2 separate regions of the Homo sapiens genome follow, and region 2 is linked to region 1. A link means that fine-mapping ties the variant in region 1 to the expression of a gene that starts in the linked region. Tissue or cell type: hypothalamus. Region 1 holds a variant in brackets; the other region holds the start of a gene. All regions are shown on one strand. Distances are from middle to middle.

Evidence for each region. PIP is the estimated chance that this variant, and not a neighbour inherited with it, causes the effect.
Region 2: ITCH starts here. The variant in region 1 is fine-mapped to the expression of ITCH in hypothalamus (GTEx, PIP above 0.99).

What each region holds. Positions count from the first base shown.
Region 1 is chr20:33,882,039-33,890,141 of GRCh38, reverse strand. No RefSeq gene overlaps it. Among named protein-coding and RNA genes, the nearest start is that of CHMP4B, 75 kb to the right of the region's middle. RefSeq lists enhancers at 6,380-6,639, 6,820-6,939. The variant C/T (reference allele first, on the strand shown) is at 4,822.
Region 2 is chr20:34,358,787-34,366,889 of GRCh38, reverse strand. It overlaps ITCH (itchy E3 ubiquitin protein ligase), which reads right to left and starts at 3,617. Exons shown (of 25, transcript NM_031483.7): 1 at 3,541-3,617. RefSeq lists a silencer at 3,083-3,312.

The DNA.
Region 1 (8,103 bases):
AGAGGAATGGAGAGTATATTGTTGTAAGGTTCTTATACTACATATAAAGTGGTATGATATTATTTGAAGATAGACTCTGACAAATTAAATATGTATACTGTAAACCTTAGGACAACCACTAAAGCCACCACAGTCACTCTCTCAACAGATGTTTTCTTGAGTATATATAATGTACCAGGATCCAGGCCTGGTCCTGGGAAAATGGGACCTTCATGGAGCTCACAGAGCATCCAGTGGGTCCATGGAGACAAACACCTGTTACAAAGTTGGTACAGAGGAGGCACCAATAATTTGGGGGTAGCTTATCCCATACTTTTAGCCCTTCCTCCTTTCTGGAGTCTTCAGGTTATGGAGGATGCGCTGAAGTGCAGATGCCAAGGGTTGTTAAGTGCAATGTGACCCAGGGCAGAGGACAAAAGGACATTGAACTCCTTTCCAAGATAACCACCAAGATGGTGGTGGGGGGCACCTCAGGACTTATTAAGGGGCAGCCAGACCAGCTCTTCTACCTCCCCTGGGCCCCCTTTAAATAAGCAGGTGGGGAGTTGGGGGAGGTCTTTGGAGTTAAGTGTCCCAGCCTGAGGAGAAGGCAGGTGGCACTAAGACTTTTCCCTCCCCTGGGAAGGGAGAATGACTCTCACTTCCTCAATTCAAGCCAAATGTAGGGGGTTCCAAGTGAAATCTCAGAAAGCAGAGCTGCATTTAGGAGGGTCCAACACCTCATTCTCCAGTGGAGGGTCTGCCTAGGCTCCCCTGCTCTCATGCCTCTCTTTTTGGGGAGAAGAACTATGAATGAACTATGAAAAAATATGGGCAGGCAGAGAGGACACGTGGAATAGCCCACACCCCAGCCCCAGCAACTGGGTAGCAAGGGAGTGGGAGGTTTCCAGGAGCCAAGAGGGCATCATGGGAGGGAGACATCTTGCTGCTCTGCCAGCAAAGAGGGCTGCTGACCAGGCAAGGGGGCCCAGAGGAAAACAGGCAGGGAAGGGGAGCTACGGGAGAAAAAGAGGGCACACAGAGTCAGCTGTGGGAATGCAAGGAAAAGAGGCCTCCAAGGATCCCCCAAGGACCTGCACCCCATGCCAGAGCCACCATCCGGCCCTAATGACACAGAAATCCCTGATGGCCAGTCAGGGATGGCCTGAGAGATGGCATTGGCCACAAGAGGTGAGGGAGTCCCCAACAGGAAGCTATTAGGGGAGAGACCTTTTCCCTGTGCCCTCCCTCCTCCATGTTAACCCAGAGGAGAGGTGGGGCTTTCAACTGGGCCAGACTGGCCGGGACTCCCTCATGCTCCAGTGTGATCGGCAGTCCGTACAACCCATGAAGGGACAGGGAAGACAGAATATGGGTGACGGCAGCGATCGGAGAATAAAACTACCCAGGGAGCTCAGTCCAGCCAGTAAACCAGAGACACGGAGAACCAGAGCATCCACTTCAAGACCATTTTTCTTGTTGGCTTTGAAATCTCTTTATTCCCCATCTAGCTCTTTTTAAAGACACAGCTTCCCCAGGGACAAGAGAGATTTGCTATTATGGGTCGAATTGTTCTCTCCAATCCCCTCAAAAAAAAAAAGATATGGACCTCAGAATGTGATCTGATTTGAGAATGGTGTCCTTGCAAGTTTAATTAGTAATTAAAGATGAGGCTATCCTTGAGTAGAATGGGCCCCTAATCTGATAGAACTGCGTTCTTCTAAGGAGACAGCTATGTGAAGTCAGGGAGAATGCCCTGTGATGAGGAAGGCAGAGACTGGAGTTACGCACCCGCACACCAAGGAACGCTGAGGATTGCTGGGAAACCACCAGGAGCTAGGCAGAGGCAAGGAAGGATCCCCCTAGGAAGAGGCAAGAAAGATTTCAGAGGGAGCAGGCCCGGCCCTCACCTTGATTTCAGACTTTTGGCCTCCAGCACTAACAGAATACACTCCTGTAGCTGTAAGCCTTCCAGTTTGTGATACCTTCTTACAGCAAAGATTGTTCAAGGTCTGGCCTGAAAGAGAGGCAGCTGGCACAGCCCTGGAGGAGGAGCAGGATTCGGTGGGAACATCCTGATACAATTAGAAATAAGGAATAAGGACTAACATTTATTGCTCAAGAAATGTGCCTACTACATGCCAGGCCCCATTCGAAGCCCTGTACATGTATTAACTCAAGCAAGTAGGTACCATTATAACTCTATTTTACAGATAAAGAAAGGAAGGCATAGACAGGCGATGTGATTTGCCCAAAATCACACAGCTAGTAATTATCAGGGCAAGAATTTGAACCCAGGCTGTCTGGCTCCCAAGCTGAGGCTCTTAATCACCATATCATCTGCTTCAACAAAATAAGTGAGCAATCAGTGTTATACCTAGGGCCTCCATAAAATACTGGGGGACACTTTGGGAGGCTAAGGCAGGCAGATCACTTGAGGTCAGGAGTTTGAGACCAGACTTGCCAACATGGTGAAACTCCGTCTCTAATGAAAATGCAAAAATTAGCCAGGCGTGGTGGCGGGGGACCTGTAATCCCAGCTGCTCAGGAGGCTGAGGCAGGAGAATCACTTGAACCTGGGAGGCAGAGGTTGTAGTGAGCCAAGATCAAGCCACTTCATTCCAGCCTGGGCAACAGAGTGAGACTCCATCTCAAAAAAAAATACTGAGGGAGTATTGAATTGGTCTCTCCAATCCCGTGTGTGTGTACATAAATATATATATATATATATATATATATATATATATATATATATATATATATATAGAGAGAGAGAGAGAGAGAGAGAGAGAGAGAGAGAGAGAGAGACAGGGACTTACTCTGTCACTCAGGCTGGAGTGCTATGGTACAATCACAGATCACTGCAAACCAGACCTCCTGGGCTCAAGAAATCATCCCACCTCGGCCTCCCAAAATGCTGGGATACACCAGCCTGTGTTCTCATCGGTAAAATGGGAGTGAATAACCCACCACTTCACAGGGCATAATGTACTTGTCATGTGGCTGGCACAGAAGGAACTCGCTGATTGTTCTGACCCCCAGTGGGGGGCTGGGAAAACTCATATTCTGCCCACTGCCTTCCCTGTTCTCTGTGCCTGGTAGAGCTTATTCTGATTTCCATTTGCAAACAGATTCTTCTTCCCCATCTTCTGACCCCTCTGGGAGGCCTAGCATCCAAGCACACTCCTGACAGGAGCGCCAGGCGTGGGTTTCTGAGGGCAGCTCAGAGGCACAGCCAGCTTGAAACAGGCACAGTCATGCCATCCGCTGAGCCTGCAGGCTGTGTACATGGCCCTTGCCATGAAGTGGACATGGTCAGAGGCAAAGATGCAGGGCAGGATGCATGTGTGTGAGCGCCCAGCTATCCACGTACATGTCTGAGCACACATGTGGGTGCATTCACACATGTGCTTGTGAGCGTTGGGGGGATCTTCATATGACACTCTCTGCTTCATGGAATTGGCATTTGCTCATTCATCCTGTGAGTATTTATTGAGTGCCTACTATGTACCAGGCTCTGTTGTAGGAGCTGGGGCTACACCATGAGCAAGACAATTAAATGACTTGCCCTTGTACGGGGAGGCAGACAGTAAACAAGTCATGTCAGACAGTGCATTGGAAGAAATGCGCTGGAAGATGTAGAGTCAGCTTAGGCTGCATAACAAAGTACCACAGACTGGGTAGCTTAAATCAGTGGTCCCAACCTTTTTGGCACCAGGGACGGGTTTCGTGGAAGACAGTTTTTCCATGGATAGTGGGGGGGATGGTTTGGGGATGATTCATATTATATTTATTGTACACTTTATTTATATTATTACCACACTGTAATATACAACGAAATAATTATATGACTCACCATAATGTAGAATCAGTGGGAGCCCTGAGCTTGTGTTCCTTTTTTTTTTTTTTTTTTGAGACGAAGTCTCTCTCTGTCGCCCAGGCTGGAGTGCAATGGCGCGATCTTGGCTCACTGCAACCTCCGCCTCCTGGGTTCAAGCAATTCTCCTGCCTCACCCTCCTGAGTAGCTGGAATTACAAGCGCTCACCACCGTGCCCTGCTAATTTTTGTATTTTTAGTAGAGACAGGGTTTCACCATGTTGGTCAGGCTGGCCTCAAACTCCTCACCTCGTGATCCACCTGCCTCGGCCTCCCAAAGTGCTGGGATTACAGGCGTGAGCCACCAGGTCCAGCCTGAGCTTGTTTTCCTGCGACTAGATGGTCCCATCTGAGAGTCACGGGAGACAGTGACAGATCATCAGGCATTAGATTCTCATAAGGAGCATGCAACCTAGATCCCCCGCATGAACAGTTCACAACAGGGTTCACACTCCTGTGAGCATCTAATGCTGCCGCTGATCTGGCAGGAGGCAGAGCTCAGGCAGCCATTCGTGTGATGGGGAGCGGCTGTATATACAGACGAAGCTTCTCTCCCTCACCAGCCACTCACCTCCTGCTGTGTGCCAGGTTCCTAATAGGCCATGGACCAGTACTGGTCCATGGCCAGGGGATTGAGGACCCCTGGCTCAAATAACAGAAATTTATTTTCCCACAGTTCCAGAGGCAGCAAGTCCAAGACCAAGGCACCCGCAGGGTTTCCTTGGAGGCCTCCCTCCTCGGCTTTCCTCCCCATGTCCTCACACGGCCTTCCCTCTGTGCACCCTCATCCCTTGTGTTGCTTCCCCCTTTTAAAAAGGATACCAGGCCGGGCACAGTGGCTCACGCCTGTTATCCCAGCACTTTGGGAGGCCGAGATGGGTGGATCACGAGCTCAGGAGTTCAAGACCAGCCTGGCCAACATGGTGAAACCCTGTCTCTACCAAAAATACAAAAAAAAAATTAGC[C/T]GGGAGTGGTGGCACGTGCCTGTTAGTCCCAGCTACTCGGGAGACTGAGGCAGGAAAATTGCTTGAACCCCAGAGGCAGAGGTTGCAGTGAACCAAGATCGCATCACTGCACTCCAGCCTGGGAGACAGAGCAAGACTCTGTCTCAAAAACAAAACAAAACAAAACAAACAAACAAACAAACAAAAAGGACACCACTCAGATTGGATTAAGACCCAGCCCTACTGGCCTCATTTTAACTTATTCACCTCTTTAAAGACCTTATCTCCAAACACAGTGACATTCTGAGGTACTCGGGGTTAGGGCTTCAACCTATAAACTTTGGGAAGGACACAATTCATCCCATAACTGCTAAGAAAGTGGGGGTGTTTTTTTTTTTTTTTCAAAGATGGGATCTCACTATGTTGCCCAGGCTGGTCTTGAACTCCTGGCCTCAACTGATCTTCCTGCCTTGGGTTCCCAAAGTTGGCAGGGGTGAGTAGGATATTTTAGTCAAGGTGGTCAGGGAAGGCCTCTTGGAGGAAGTGTCATTTGAGCTGAGGTCTAATCAGGAGATCTGGGGAAAAGAGAGTCCAAGTAGAGGAAAGTATAAGAACAAAAGCCCTGAGGCAGGATCGAGTTTGAGGTCTCTGAGGAACAAGAAGGCCACACTGGCTGGACCTGAGGTTGGGGGTGATGGCAGGCAGGGACGGGGTCAGCAGGGCTTTGTAGGCCACGGGAAGGAGTTTGGATTTTATACAATCCTTCTCCTGCTTCACTAGAGGCCATGGGATGTGGTAAGAGGTGCTGGGACATAGTGATGAATCTGACTCATCTTCCCCATTGCCCCCCCACAGCTCTGACCCCTGCCCAGGTGCTCCCAGCCAGGCAGGCAGATAAGGAGAGGATTTAATCCACTGTGATCATTCCTGAGGCAGAGGAGGTAAGGGAGACCCTGAGGCCCAAAGTGCTAGCCCTGCCTGAACTAGTTAGGTTAGTGTCTCTGGCGGGGCTGCCAGACTCTTGATTTGAGATGAAGAAGCAGAAGCATATCCCAGGCAGAGAGACCTGTGTGGGCTAAAGCCTGGAGAAATGAAAGGGCTGCTGGTGAGCTCTGGTAGGTGGGAGATATGGGACAGGGCAGCAGCAGCACCTGCCACACAAACATCCACTACCTGGGAGCTGGCTAAGGAAATGATGGTCAAGCTGTACCAGAGAATGAAGCAGCCTTCTCTCTGCAGATACAAAAAGATCTCCAAGATGTATTAAGTGCAAAAATGAAAGTATAGAACCACGTTCCTGATAAGCTACCATTTGTATATAAAGCATGTGTGGGGGTGGTAAATATGACGACATATTTGTCCTATTTACATTTGCATAAAGAAACTGGAAGGATACACAAGGAACTAAGGCATGTGGCAGGTGATGGGGACTAGGCAGGTGAGGACGATGCAGGAGTTAGCCTTGTTTTACTGTGTGCCTTTTGAATTGTTTTTGTTTTTGTTTTTGTTTTGAGATGGAGTCTCACTCTGTCACCCAGGCTGGAGTGCAGTGGCATGTTGTCGGCTCACTTCAACCTCCACCTCCCAGATTCAAGTGATCCTGCTGCCTCAGCCTCCTGAGTAGCTGGAATTACAGGTGTGCACCATCACGCCCTGCTAAGTTTTATTTTTTTTAGTAGAGACAGGGTTTCACCATGTTGACCAGACTGGTCTCCTAACCTCAAGTGATCCACCCACCTTGGCGTCCCAAAGTGCTGGGATTATAGGCATGAGCCACCACACGCAGTCCTGAATGTAATTTTTGAAACCCATAATCATGAAACTCATTCTTAAAAATTGAAGAGCAAGAGTACAGAGGATGCGGCGCGGGAGCTGAGGTCACCAGGGCTGAGGTTGCTGTCATAGTATAAAAAGAGACATACTGCAACTGTGAGATTAACAAGAGCCATAGGACCCACTTAAGCATCTCACAGGCCGGACACCAGGTGTCACTTAGCAGTTGATACAGCCTGGCCCCAGGATTTCCAACCCTGGCCAGGGGATTTCCAGAAAACAAGACCACCTCAGCACAGATGCAACTTTCATAAACCTTGAAACAAAGCTTCCCCTTACAAGAATAGCTTAAACTTCTTTTTTGAAAGAAACACCTGGCGACTAACCTAGACTGAACCCAGGTCTAGGGAAGGGAGAAGGATCCCCCAAACTCTGAGGATGGTCTCTACACAGAGACCCTCCTGGTCAGCTGGTCCTCTGACCTCCTAAGTGTATCTGGCCCGTGTCATTGATGTCTGTCTCGTAACAGCACAGCCAAAATAAATCACTTGAGGCCGGGCACCATGGTTCATGCTTGTAACTCAGAACTTTGGGAGGCCAAGGGAGGAAGATGGGTTAAGGCCAGGAGTTCAAGACCAGCCTGGGCAACACAGCAAGATCCCATCTTTTTTTTTTTTAAGAAAAGGATAAACCGTTTGAGCATCAGGCAGTGTCTAAGACTCATCTTTGACACGAATCAAACCAAAGGAGAGAAATCGCTCGTGGGGAAGCTGGTCACCTAGGACCACCCGAACACAACAGCTGCTTATGATTTGGGCAGTAGGGAGCCATGGAAGGATTTAAAGGTAGGGAGGAGGTGTGTGACGTGATCAGACTTGTGAGCAGCCAGTGCGGAGAGTGGTTCACAGGGGGCAGCATGGAGGAGGCAGGTGTGACCATCCAGCTAGTGCCTGGCCTCTGATCTAGGGCAGAGACAAGGAGGTGGGGTGGGGAGCAGAGCGTTGGAGGGGGAAGGGACAGTAGAAGGCAGAGCTAACGAGGCTCCACTGCCAGGCAGGGATGCTAACCAGCTCCTTCCCCTCGGAAAAGAGGTGGATGTCAAATCTTGAGCCCCGCCCAGCCACACTGGCCCCTGATAAATCCCCTCTGGCCAGTCATTACTCTTCTCACGTGCAGCCCCCTAATTGCCCAGAGATGAAGTGTCTGAGGCTGCCCTCTTGCCATGGCAGACAAATGCCTGTTTGAGCAGAAGCCGGAGGGAACAGGACAGATGGGGTCCTGTTCAGCTTCCCTGCTCCCAGATCCCGGGCCTCGCTGCTCCTGTGGGCTTTGGGAAACCAACAAGGGTTTGTGTTTAATGAGGCTGCCTGCTCATCCATCACGCAAGGCCAGTGCCTTGACGACAGCAACCACCAAAGATGAGGGCCAGGCCAGGGTCCCTGAATCAGAGCAGGGTGAGGGTGGGGCAGGCTCAGTGCAATCGAATCCAGGCTGTGTAAATCACCACACCTCTCCAGGCTGTGATTTCCT
Region 2 (8,103 bases), 480 kb before region 1:
AACTAGACTTCTGCAATAGCTAGTCCCTCATCCTTTCGCTCATCACCAGAGCAATCTTTCTTTTTTTGTTTTTTGATACCTATCTTTGTCCTGCAGTACACAGCAATTTTCTAAAACACATATGTACTCACATCATTTCCCTGTCGAAAAATCTGCATCTATTTCTTTTTTTTTTCCTTCCTTTTGGTAAAGACGGGATATCACCATGTTGCCCAGGCTGGTCTCAAACTCCTGAGCTCAAGCGATTCACCCGCCTCAGCCTCCCAAACTGTTGAGATTACAGGTGTGAGGCACTGAGCCCAGCCCTGTATCTATTTCTACCAACATAAAATTCCAAATTTTTAGCATTATACTTAAAATTTTTAGCCAGAGCACAGTAGCTTACACCTGTAATCCCAACACTTTAGGAGGCCAAGGTGGGAGGACCACTTGAACACAGGAGTTAAGACCAGACTGGGCAACGTAAAGAGAACCTTTCTCTACAAAAAAATTTTAAAAATTAGCCAGGCATGCTAATGCATGCCTGTTGTCCCAGCTACTCAGGGAGGCTGGGGTGGGAAGATCACTTGAGCTCTGGAGGTCCTGTCACTGCACTCCATCCTGCGTGACTGGGTGAGACCCAGTCTCAACAACAAAAAATCACTTTTCATATACTTGCTTCCTTTAACCTTTCTGACCTTGCGTTTCAAAATGCTCTCCTTCCCCATTCCACTCCACACTCCCTGAACCCTTTTTGTTCCATAATCCTCTGAATTTACACACAGCATTAAGGCATTCACTCAGCCTACCCTGTCCTTCTCTTTCCCCGCCCTTTTCACACTCCTACTCTTCATGTAAGACCCAATGTGGGTTCAGGGGCAAATCTTGCCTCTTCTAACCAATCCTCCACCCAGCCACACACACAGAATTGGCCACTTCCTCTTTCGTCTCAAAGCTTTTTGACCTTTCCTTGGTAAGTCTACAGTACCATTTGCCCTCAGTGGTTCCCAAGACCATCAGAATTACCTAAGGCATGTGTTAAAAATAAATTGGTTGAAGCCAACCCAGACCTACTAAATCCATCTCAGAAGGTAAGACCCTGGAATTTCTAAGCTCTCCTAATTATTCTAATGGTCAAATTTGGGGACTACTGGTTTGTCTGCCTCTCCCAATAAGTGAAAAGATGTATTTTTTAGGGCCAGGAGTGGCGGCTCATGCCTGTAAACCCAGCACTTTGGGAGGCCAAGGCAGGTGGATCACGAGGTCAGGAGTTCGAGAGCAGCCTAGCCAATATGGTGAAAACCCATCTCTACTAAAAAATACAAAAAAATTACCGGGAGTGGTGGCACGCGCCTGTAGTCCCAGCTACTACGGAGGCTGAGGCAGAAGAATTGCTGGAACCCGGGAGGCGGAGGTTACAGTAAGCCGAGATCACACCACTGTACTCCAGCCTGGGTGACAAAGTTAGATTCCGTCTCAAACAAACGAAAAAGATGTATTTTTTTCTAAAGAATGTAGAAATGTTTGATTCTAGAATACACTGAAGAAGTAGTCTGTACTCATTTTTTTAATTTCATATGATATCCTTGGTGACTTGACCTGTATGCTGAATGTAATGGAATTCCTTTTGGACTCACAAAACTTAAATTCACAGTTCAAAGAAGCAGTAGAATTTCCACCTTCATTTCTAAATTTTTTTTTTTATTTTTTGAGACAGGGTCTCACTCTGTCACCCAGGCTGGAATGCAGTGGCAACGGTAACAGCTCACCGCAGCCTCGACCCCCCGGAATCAGGTGATTCCCCCACCTCAGCCTCCTGAGTATCTGGGACCACAGGCGCCTGCCACCACACCCGGCAAATCTTTGTATTTTTTGTAGAGACGGGGTTTCACGATGTTGCCCAGGCTGATCTCCAATTCCTGGGCTCACGTAATCCGCCCACCTCGGCCTCCCAAATTGCTGGGATTACAGGCGTGAGCCACCACACCCATCCCATTGCTTTTTTTTTTTTTTTTTTTTTGAGGCGGAGTCTCGCTCTGTCGCCCAGGCTGGAGTGCAGCAGCGAGATCTCGGCTCACTGCAGCCTCCACCTCCCGGGTTCAAGCCATTCTCCTGCCTCAGCCTCCCTAGTAGCTGGGACTACAGGCGCGCGCCACCACGCCCAGGATTTTTTTTTTTTTTTTTTTGTATTTTTAGTAGAGACGGGGTTTCACCATGTTGGTCAGGATGGTCTCGAACTCCTGACCTCATGATCTGCCCGCCTCGGCCTCCCAAAGTGCTAGGATTACAGGCGTGAGCCACACACAGCACCCGGCCCATTTCTTAATTTTAAAAATAAATCGTAGCTTAAATAAACCTGTAAATACACATAGCAAGCTCTCAGCAGATCTGCCATGAGAACTTCACCTCAACTGATAAACCATTCCTTAGCCGATTTTGAGAATGGAAATACACTGCCTTTACATACTTCCTGAAGATCGAATTCTATCAGGAAAAGATGCAGGAGAACCCACCTAAGTGGGTGGCTGGCTCCAGGGTCTTACTAATTTTCAAGGCAAAAATCCCACAATTCCCCATCCCCCACTCCAAACCAAGTATACTGTAGCTGTGGAAGAATGGCAGAAAATGTAATAAGATTAGGATACGAATACAACCAAGAAAACAAGGTTGCGTTGTTATTGGGGATAATGAATTCCTGGCCCTTTACAAGTTCACCTGGTTACATGTCCAACTAACTTTAGGCCCAGCGTCTACTTCGGGCGCACAAATTCTGCGATTCTCTTTTCTGTCGCGGACGGGAACTGTCTTGGAAAACTTGAGTTCTCCACTTAAAAGTCATGTCATCATGCTTCGACCCTTAGAATACGTTCAACGGCTACTTTTTTCTTTTCTCTGCTAAAGAAAAGGGCACTCTCCGGAGGAAGGGCAGTGACAGCTCCACGTCTGCAAAAGTCGGCGCCGCCACGACGGTGGCGGACGTCGGGGAGGGCGCCGGAGCCGGGACCACCACGCCGGGGGGACAATGGAAGGAGGAGGCGAGTGGGAGAGAGAAGGGGAGGCAGCCGCTGTGCTGGGCCCTTCTAGCGACTGGGGGCTCGGAAAAGTCTCGAGAAGGCCAGCTGGGTGGCGGGGGACCCGGCCGCCGCCCCTCACAGGGCCACGTCGCCCGCGCCGGCCCCGCCGCCGGGCCCCGCGCGTAGGCCGAACCGCTGGAGAGTGGCCCCAGGCGGGGCTGAGGGGCGAGGGGCCGGACGGTACCCACGCCCGTCGTGGCCCAGCCCTTTCACAACTTGGAGCCCGCGAGGCGAAGGCCTCCGGAAGCCTGTGCCAGACACTGATCCCTCCGAACGTCCAGACAGCCCACCCCCACCGCCCGGCCCGGGCCAGTAGCCCGAGCTCCCCGCGCCCCCGACAGACACCGGCTCTGGAAGAAGGAGCAGCCGCGGCTCTGGGGTCCCGAACCGCGCGTCCCACTCCTCTACCCTTGTTCTCCCCGAACATTCTCATCCGGACTCCCTCCCTCTCCCGAGAACTGCCCCGAGTTCGCCCACGGGGGTTTACCGGGACTCGGGGCGGCGGCGACTCCTCAGTCCCTAGACTAAGATGGCAGCCGGTCCCGAGCCCCGACCACAGCTACTAGAGCGAGTTAGCAGCTAAAGCGCAGGCGCCTGAGCGCGGAAGTGGTCTAGACTACAAGCCCCAGCAGGCCTTGCGCGCCAGCCGTCCGGCCCGCCCCTGGCTTGAAGAGCTGGCTGCGGTGGTAAATCAGTTAAATCCCAGTTTTCCTCAGCTCCAGGTGAGATGGGCGCGAGCGGCTCCCAGCACCTCCAGGCTTTTTTTTTTTTTTAACACCCCGCCCACCAGAGCCTATAAGGACTGTGATTCTCAAACTATGGTGTGCATCAGAATCACCTAGAGAGCTTATTAAAACTTACACTGCTGACCCCCACCCCCAGAGTTTCTGATCAGAAGATCTGGCATAGGAGGATAGGGTCTGATAATTTGCATGTCCAACAAGCTGTCTAGTGATACTGCTAGTGAGTGAAATCATAATTTGAGAACCAATGGGCTATATAGCTTAGTTTATAACTTAGTTGTTCTTTTTTCTTTTTCTTTTCCTTTTCTTTTTTTTTCTTCTTTTTGAGATAAGGTCTCACCCTTCACCCAGGCTGGAGTGCAGTGGTGCAGTCATAGCTCACTACAGCCTCACACTCCTGGGCTCAAGCGAGCCTCCCACCTGGGCTTCCTGAGTAGCTGGGACAGCAGTTGAGCACCACCACACCCGACTAATTTTGTTCTATTCTTTGTAGAGATGGGGATGGGGTGGAGTGCGGATGGGATGGGGCGGGAATAGGGCCACGGTGTCGCCATGTTGCCCAGGCTGGTCTCCAGCTCCTGGGCTCAAGCGATACTCCCTCCTCGGGCCTCCCAATCGCTGAGATTACAGATGTGAGCCACTGCACCTGGCCTGGCTTAGCCTTTAACAATGTACATTAAAGGGCGTGGTTAAAAAGAAAATAAAAGAAAAAAAATGTACACTTGAGAGTTACACTGACCGGATTCAAATCCTCCCTTTTCTACCTTTTAACTGGGTGCCCTTAGGGATGATGACAACAGCTTAGTGGAGCCAACGTGGCCTGTCCGGTATTCTAAGAGCTGATACCAAGCTCCCTTTATTCTCACAACAAACCTATTACAGAAATACCATTATTATCCCCATTTTACAAATATATAAACTAAGTCACATACTTGATAAGAACCCAGGCAGTCTGGCGTGAAAGTCCGTTGTCTTAACCTTCTTCATGGATTGCTTGTGAGAAATAATAGGCTATGCAGGCAGAGACTCAGAGGTATGACTAAGTGCTCAATACTTAGTGACCTTTGCTATTACTGTTTAGCCTGTTTCCTCCTAATGAAAATAGTATTTTGCCATCTGGAAAGTCACATTTTTCAAAGTGACTTTTTTTTTTTTTTTTTTTTTGAGACAGAGTCTTGCTCTGTCACCCAACCTGGAGTGCAGCGGTGCAATCATAGCTCACTGCAGCCAACCTCCTGGGCTCAAGTGATCCTCTCACCTCAGCTTCCTGAGTAGCTGGGACTCCAGGCTCAAGCCACCACACTATCCTAATTGTTTTTATTTTTGTAGAGACGTGGACTCCCTGTGTTGCCCAGGCTGTTCTCAGACTCCTAGGCTTGGCTAGGGTCAGTGGCTTACACCTGTAATCCCAGGAGTTAGGGAGGCCAAGGCAGGCAAATCACTTGAGGTCAGGAGTTTGAGACCAGTCTGGCCAACATGGTGAAACCCCGTCTCTTTTTTTTTTTTTTTTTTTTTTTGAGACAGAGTATTGCTCTGTCGCCCAGGCTGGAGTGCAGTGGCGCAATCTTGGCTCACTGCAACCTCCGCTCGCCTCCTGGGTTCAAGTGATTCTCCTGTCTCAGCCTCCTAAGTAGCTGGGACTACAAGCGCATGCCATCACGCCTGGCTAATTTTTGTATTTTTAGTAGAGTTGGGTGAGCCACCACGCCTAGCCTTGTGAAACCCCTTCCCTACTAAAAACACAAAAATTAGCCAGGTGTGGTGGCGGGTGCCTGTAATCCCAGCTACTTGGGAGGCTGAAGCACGATAATTGATTGAACCCAGGAGGGGGAGGTTGCAGTGACCCAAGATCACGCCATTGCACTCCAGCCTGGGCGACTCAGCGAGACTCTGTCTCAAAAAACAAACAACAAAAGAAACATAAAGGCTGGGCGCAGTAGCTCACTCCTATAATCCCAGCACTTCGGGAGGCTGAGGCGGGTGGATCACCTGAGGTCAGGAGTTTGAGACCAGCCTGGCCAACATGGTGAAATCTTGTCTCTACTAAAAATGCAAAAATTTGTTGGGCATGGTTTGGGAGGCCGAGGCGGATGGATCAACTGAGGTCAGGAGTTCAAGACCAGCCTGGCTAACATGGTGAAACCCCATCTCTACTAAAAATGCAAAAATTAGACCGGGCACGGTGGCTCACGCCTATAATCCCAGCACTTTGGGAGGCCAAGGCGGGCGGATCACGAGATCAGGAGTTCAAGACCAGCCTGGCTATCATGGTGAAACCCTATCTCTACTAAAAATACAAAAATTAGCCGGGCGTGGTGGCGGGTGCCTGTAATCCCAGCTAGTCAGGAGGCTGAGGCAGAGAATTGCTTGGACCTGGGAGGCGGAGGTTGCAGTGAGCCAAGATCGTGCTACTGCACTCCATCCTGGGCCACAGAGCGAGAATCTGTCTCAAAAAAAAAAATGCAAAAATTAGTTGGGCATGGCACACCCCTGTAATCTCAGCTACTCGGGAGGCTGGGGTGGGAGAATTGCTTGAACTCAGGAGACGGAGACTGCAGTGAGCCAAGATCACGCCACTGCACTCCATCCTGAGTGACAGAGTGAAACCCCATCTAAAAAAAATAAAAAATCAAACTCCTAGGTTCAAGCCTTCAAGCCTCAAGCAAAGTACTTTCAAAACCACTTCATGTTTCCTGCAACATGCCTTAGGAAAGATTGCTAAAATACAGATTCCTGCGCCCCATCCTCATTCAGTTTCTCTAGTGCAGTGGTTTTCAAACCTCAGTACTTATCAGAATTGCCTGCAAAGTTAGTTAAACTGTAGGTTGCTGAGGCCACTCCTAGAGTTTCTGATTCAGTAGGTCTGGGGCAGGGCCTGAGAATTTGCTTTTTTTTTTTTTGGAGACTGAGTCTCACTCTGTCGCCCAGGCTTGAGTGCAGTGGCCCAACCTCCGCTCACTGCAACCTCTGCCTCCCGGGTTCAAGCGATTCTCCCGCCTCAGCCTCCCGAGCAGCTGGGATTACAGGTGCATGCCACCACGACTGACTAATTTTTGTATTTTTGTAGAGATGGGGTTTCACCATATTGGCCAGGCTGGTCTTGAACTCTTGAGCTTGTGATCTGCCCGCCTTAGCCTCCCAAAGTGCTGGGATTATAGGCGTGAGCCACCGCACCCGGCCAGTACAAGGTATTTTTATGACCATTATACAGAGAAGAAAACTGAGTGTGACAGAAATTAAATGGCTTGTTGAAGATCACTCAGCCAGGAACCAGGGATCTAACCCTAAGTCCTGTAGCTCCAGATTCTGTATTCACCTACAATTTTAAAAACTATGTAAGGTTAGGCAAAACTAGTCTATGGTGTTAGAAGTCAGGATACTGGTTACTCTTTGAGGGGAGGGTGTACCTGGAAGAAGGCACAAAGACACCTCTCAGGATAGGTAATAATGTTCTGTGCCCTGATCTGGGTGGTGTTACTGTTTCAGGAAAAGGGTCCTGATTCAGACCCCAAGAGAGGGTTCTTGGATCTCGTGCAGGAAAGAATTTGGGGCAAGTCCATACAATAAAGTGAAAACAAGTTATTTATTTATTATTCTTTTTCAGACAGAGTTTTGCTCTTGTCACCCTGGCTGGAGTGCAGTGGGGCAATCTCAGCTCACTGTAACCTCCGCCTCCTGGGTTCAAGTGATTCTCCTGCCTCATCCTCCTGAGTAACTGGGATTACAGGCGCACACCACCACACCCAGCTAATTTTTGTATTTTTAGCAGAGGTGGAGTTTCACCATGTTGGCTAGGCTGATCTTGAACTCCTGACCTCAGGTGATCCACCTGCCTCGGCCTCCCAAAGTGCTGGGATTACAGGCATGAGCCACGGCACCCAGCCGATAATGAGTTTATTAAGAAAGTAAAGGGGCCGGGCGTGGTGGCTAACGCTTGTAATCCCAGCACTTTGGGAGGCTGAGGGGGGTGGATCACGAGGTCAGGAGTTCAAGACCAGCCTGGCCAACATAGTGAAACCCCACCTCTACTAAAAATACAAAAATTAGCTGGGCGTGGTGACGTGCGCCTATAATACCAGCTACTCCAGAGGCTGAGGCAGGAGAATTGCTTGAACCAGGACCCAGGAGGCAAGGTGGAGGCTGCAGTGAGCCGACATCGTACCACTGCACTCCAGCCTGGGCAACAGAGCAAGACTCCATCTCAAAAAAAAAGAAAAAGAAAAAAGAAAGTAAAGGAGGCCGAGCGTGGTGGCTCACACCTGTAATCACACCACTTTGGGAGGCTGAGGCGGGTGGATCACTGGAAG